Regions from separate parts of the Homo sapiens genome. Here region 2 is linked to region 1. A link means that fine-mapping ties the variant in region 1 to the expression of a gene that starts in the linked region. Tissue or cell type: visceral fat. Region 1 holds a variant in brackets; the other region holds the start of a gene. All regions are shown on one strand. Distances are between the middles of the regions.

Region 1 (2,829 bases):
CTGAGCAACACAGTGAAAACCCATCTCAAAAAAAAAAAAAAAAAACCAAAAAAACTGTCCAGCTGTGGACTTTCAGGATTCAGGACTGCTGGGGATCAAGCCCAAGGATGTTTTTCAGAGCTCTGTGATTTAAGATGCTCGAAAAGAGTGTCCAAGAGGAGTAAAGGTCATGACAGAATTTACTCCCAGGACAATCTAAGTTCTGCCACAAGTACCCGTGGTGTCTGTTCCCACAACAATGGCCCTTTCACAAGCTCTTGCCTCACAACCCCTGCAGAAGTCCTTCAACAAAACTAATAATAGACTAGTGAAACCTACTCCTCACATGGGTAAGAGTTGCAGTGGGCAGGTGACCCTCCTCCCTGCCCCCATCCTTTGCTTCCTCAAGCTCCCTGCCAACCTCTGGATACATCAATGGGAAGGAAACCAGGGAAGCATAGACCTATAGTACAACAGGGGTGTAGTGACCACTGGACCTGATGAAGCGAATCTGCCTGAAATTTAATACGCCTTTTTATTTCCCTTCTGTGTTAAATCAAATGATCTGTTCTGCACTGAGCCAAGCAAGTTACTTTTAAAACTGGTGGCACCACTCATTTGGGACTTGGAGACTGCTTTTATCCAGAACCTGTTAAGAGAACAGGGGATTTAAATACAAAGGAATATGAAGGTGGTGTGCCTTAAAGACAGTCTAAAATTAGGTTTTAGTTTGTTACATTATTTTGAAATATTAAACATGAAAATGTTAAATCAGGATGTGTGAGTTTTAAGATGTTGAACACTGTCCTACATCAGTGAGGAGGGAGGCAATAAAGTAATTTCAGAGTAAAACAGATTGAGGATGAAACCAAGACAGAAGTGATGATTTGGCTTTTTATGATTTTTGCTGTGGAAATGGCAGTCGTGTGACTTTTCACTTGCAGTTTAAATGAAAGGGTGAAGAGAAGCCTACCTGCCCTAATGGCTCAGGGCTATATCCACCTCCCGGATAACCCTGGCCCTTGGGACTCCATCATCTCCTTGAAGTAGCACTGAGAATCCAAGAAGAGGCTCCGCTGCTTTTTGCACATGTTACTGAGTTACATCTCAGGAAGATTTTTAAGCACGAGGAAGGAAAATACAGGCCTGGCCAAGCAGGGTCCCCTTTTCGGTATCATCTTTGTTCCTAATAAGCAATCA[AG/A]GGGGGTGGGTGTGTTGGCTGGTAAAGGAACTACTAAGATTCAGAAGCTTGTAGTCTTCATTATTTTGTTTTACAGGTTAAAATAAACCACTTGACTGGGCACGGTGGCTCACACCTGTAATCCCAGCACTTTGGGAGGCCGGGGTGGGCAGATCACAAAGTCGGGAGTTCGAGACGAGCCTGGCCAACACAGTGAAACCCCATCTCTACTAAAAATACAAAAAAATTAGCCGGGCATGGTGGTGGGCACCTGTAATCCCAGCTACTCGGGAGGCTGAGGCAGGAGAATGGCTTGAACCTGGGAGGCAGAGGTTGCAGTGGGCAGAGATTGCGCCACTGCACTCCAGCCCAGGCGACAGTGCGAGACTCTGTCTCAAAAAAGAATAATAATAATAAATAAACCACTCAGTATTGCTGCTTCTAAGTTCAGACAGATAATCACATCTGAAGGAAGTTATTTCAGGGCTCCAAGAGAAACTTAGATTTTCTTATAACCTATAATATTTTACATATACAAGTCGAATGGAAATTATAAGCATTTCTAATATGACAAATAGGGAAGTTTAGCTTTACAAGTAATGTATTTTGCAATTTTGTGCCATTCGAAAAAGGAAGACTGAATTTAGAACAGTCCTATTATCTCCTAATAAAAACTTAGTATCCTCTAGGTAGGTGCACAGAGTGCCTCTGCCTTTGAGATGACGGGCATTAATCTCAGGAAGGAACACAAAGCATGTGTTCCAATCAGAAACTAAATATATTTTGTTGAATTAAGTAAATCCACTTAGGAGGGAATATAAGGACTATTGACAACATTAACACAAGCCAAAGGTGGACCAATATATCCCAAAATCAAAGGACAAGGCCAGTGCCATACACCTACAGATGCAGAAGCTGCCCCTTTTGTGATTCCAGATGTGTTGCCCAGATAAAAGTGCCTCCTCAATTTCTTTGTGAACACACAATCCCCAACAAACAGTTGTAATTTTGAAGAAAGTTGACATTTTTATGTAGAGATGGTGGTCTTCATGGAGTAAAAGAATTTGTTAGTGCTTATGCAATATGACAGTTGTACTAATCTTTAGAAAGATGAACTGAGAAAGTTCTCTGGGTTTTATAGCAATCTACATCAAATACACAACAAAACTATTTAATCTCTTCATTAAGATTCCAGGCTCCCCATCCCCCCACTTTGAAGGGATTCACAGCCCAGGTACTAGAAAGAACTAAGCTCCATTACCAGTGTTTTAGAACTGTCAGCTGTGACCCATAGAGGGCTGCTGAATTAACTTGTGGGTAGAGACCAACATTTTAACAAGTCACTAGAACGATATATCCCCAATTATAAATACATGTGGCACTTTGGCTTGTATATTACTCTTTTGAGTCTGAGCAGCAGGAATCAATTCACCAAAACCTTCAAAGGCAAAAAGCAGGCTGTGGACTTCTGGTGACGCAATTCACAGCCTGGAAACTGTGAGCTAGAAGTTCCTACTTCTGCTGTTGTTGTTTCTCAAGGATATTTTCTGTACATACAACAAACTAGAATTTTTTTTTTTTGAGACGGAGTTTTGCTCTTGTTGCCCAGGCTGGAGTGCGATGGTGCGATCCTGACTCACTGCAACCTCCACCTCCCAGGTTCAAGCGAT
Region 2 (2,647 bases), 57 kb after region 1:
AATTCCAGGCTGCAGTGATTGCACCACTGCACTCAGACCCTGTCTCTAAAAAACAAAATTTAAATCAAGTCACTCACTTGTTCAAAAATGTGCAGTGAGGCCAGGCTCAGTGGCTCACACCTGTAATCCCAGCACTTTGGGAGGCCAAGGTGGGAGACCTGTTTGATTCCATACCAAATAATTGAGACCACCCTGGGCAACATAGTGAGACCTAGGTCTCTACAAAAAATTTAAAAATTAGCCAGGTGTGTGCCTGTAGTCTCAGCTACTCAGGAGGCTTAGGTGGGAGGATTGCTTGAGCCTAGGAGGTCGAGGCTGCAGTGAGCTGTGATCGCACCACTGCACTCAAGCCTTCGCAACAGACCAAGACCTAGTCTCAAAAAAAAAAAAAAGTGCGCAATGACTCCCGTTGCCAATTCAAAGAGCTTTTATGAATGTTTCAATATACTTGTCTAGCGTATGTGCCTGTTTTTGGACTCAAAGTGGCCACCATAGGTGGGAGATCAAGTTGGCAACAATAGTGTTCCAAGGTAATACACCCTATATCTTGCTCTGTACCCCAGGCTGGAGTGCGGTGGCTCAATCTTGGCTTGCTGCAACAACCGCCTCCCAAGTTCAAGCGATTCTCCTGCCTCAGCCTCCCGAATAGCTGGAACTACAGGCGCGCGCCACCACGCCCGGCTAATTTTTTGTACCCCTTAGTAGAGACGGGGTTTCACCCTGTTAGCCAGGATGGTCTCAATCTCCTGACCTCGTGATCTGCCCGCCTCGGCCGCCCAAAGTGCTGGGATTACAGGCGTGAGCCACCGCGCCCGGCAAGAATTTTTTTTTTTTTTTTGAGATGGAGTTTCGCTCTTTCGCCCAGACTGGAGTTCAGTGGCACGATCTCTGCTCACTGCAACCTCCGCCTTCCGGTTTCAAGCGATTCTCCTGCCTCAGCCTCCCAAGCCCGGCTACTTTTTGTATTTTTAGTACAGACGGGGGTTTCATCATGTTGGCCAGGCTGGTCTCGAACTCCTGACCTTGTGATCCGCCCGCCGCGGCCTCCCAAAGTGCTGGGATTACAGGCGTGAGCCACCGTGCCCGGCCCCAAGAATTTTTTTTAATAAGAAATTTTGTAGAACCTTCTATAGGCAGTCGTTTTACAGCGGCGAAGAACGGAACCCGGCAGATGACATTGAATAAATGTTGAGTGGACAACTTTGTTCTTTTCCTCTTCCTTGACTCCGCCTCCTTGCTTTCCCTTCATTCTCTTTTGCTCTTGTGCTTTTAAACCCAAAGCGGCCGCCGTAGGCGAAGGTGAAGATGGCTGCCTCTGCCTTTGCTGGTGCAGTGAGAGCAGCTTCAGGTCAGTGGAGAGCGACATACTCCATGCATGCCTTCACAGAAGGGGAAACTGGTGCGGGATGGAATGGGCGTTTAGACTGGAGGTTAACAAGCAAAAAGGGTCATTATTTAAGTTAAGAAGGTTGCGCCCAATTTTCTCTGGGGCGGTGTGACCGGCAGCCCGTACCAAGTCCCCCGACTCGGACTCACGCGGGCCTGTGTGTCACGCATTTGCCGCTTCCTTACCAGCTTTTTTTCCCTAGAAAAGAAGCCAGAGAAACTGGAACGGAGGGGGCGAGGGAAACCAAAAAGTCTCACCTAACTTTCTGATTTAGAGGCTACGACCTGCCATTCACGACCTTTAACCTTGAGAATTAATGTCTCCTAACTTAAGATTCTACACCTCTAAAATGGGGGTCATAACCACCTACCTGGGGATTAAATGAGATAATGCACGTAAAGCGTTTTGGGCAGTGCCTGACACATGGTAAGCTTGAAGGCTAATTTAATTTTTAACTACAGCCCCCGGCACAAGGGCTGGTATGAGGACTTCTTGACTGAGAGATAGCAGAAGTAAAGGCGACTAAATTAAGTTGCCGTGACGTTAAGTACTTTTTGCAAAAAGTTAAAAATCATCCAAATACCATAGGATGCTCAGTAAGTTACTTTCACACAAAATATATTGTTAGGATAACATTTTGTGGGAGAATATACGAGATCAGTCAAGAAAATGCAGCGATGTAAATTTTACCGTTAGAGAAAAGCTTTTTTTATGTGGAGTATTTTTTGTGTTCGCGAAATATAATACATATGAAGAAAATTTTATATAGTATGCATGAATGATTTAACAGTTCTAAAGCAAACACCTGTTTAACACTCAGGTCAAAACAGTGCACTACCAGAAGCCTCCTCTCCCCTATGTATCAAAATTCTCTACTTCCCCCCCAGATATAAACACTGTTCTCATTTTTATAGTTACTATTAGGTTGCCTATTTTTCCTATAGTAGTTTTAGCATCCATATGTGCATCTCAAGAACATAGTTTTGCCTGGTTTTGAACTTCACATGAATTGGTTCATACAGTATATACGCTTTAGTATCTTCTTTTACATTGTGAGATTCATTCATTCATTTTGCGTAGCTGTAATGCTTTCTCATTGCTATATAATTCTTTTTTTTTTTTTGAGACGGAGTTTCTCTCTTGTTGCCCAGGCTGGAGTGCAATGGCACGATCTGGGCTCACTGCAACCTCCTCCTCCCAGGTTTAAGTGATTCCCTTGGAGTAGCTGGGATTACAGGCATGCGCCACCACGCCCAGCTA

Which allele goes with the higher level. Positions count from the first base shown, and alleles are read on the strand shown. Sizes are in standard deviations (SD) of each study's normalised expression.
With allele A in place of AG in region 1, the expression in visceral fat of the gene that starts at base 1,272 in region 2 is lower (small effect, 0.21 SD a copy in GTEx).

Evidence for each region. PIP is the estimated chance that this variant, and not a neighbour inherited with it, causes the effect.
Region 2: MRPL35 starts here. The variant in region 1 is fine-mapped to the expression of MRPL35 in visceral fat (GTEx, PIP 0.92). The same link has a PIP of 0.9 or more in tibial nerve.

Annotation. Positions count from the first base shown.
Region 1 is chr2:86,140,878-86,143,706 of GRCh38, forward strand. It overlaps PTCD3 (pentatricopeptide repeat domain 3), which reads left to right. Exons shown (of 24, transcript NM_017952.6): 24 at 1-1,280. Among named protein-coding and RNA genes, the nearest start is that of SNORD94, 6.4 kb to the left of the region's middle. RefSeq lists a silencer at 289-583. The variant AG/A (reference allele first, on the strand shown) is at 1,180.
Region 2 is chr2:86,198,186-86,200,832 of GRCh38, forward strand. It overlaps MRPL35 (mitochondrial ribosomal protein L35), which reads left to right and starts at 1,272. Exons shown (of 4, transcript NM_016622.4): 1 at 1,272-1,348. The coding sequence starts at 1,306. RefSeq lists an enhancer at 1,091-1,360.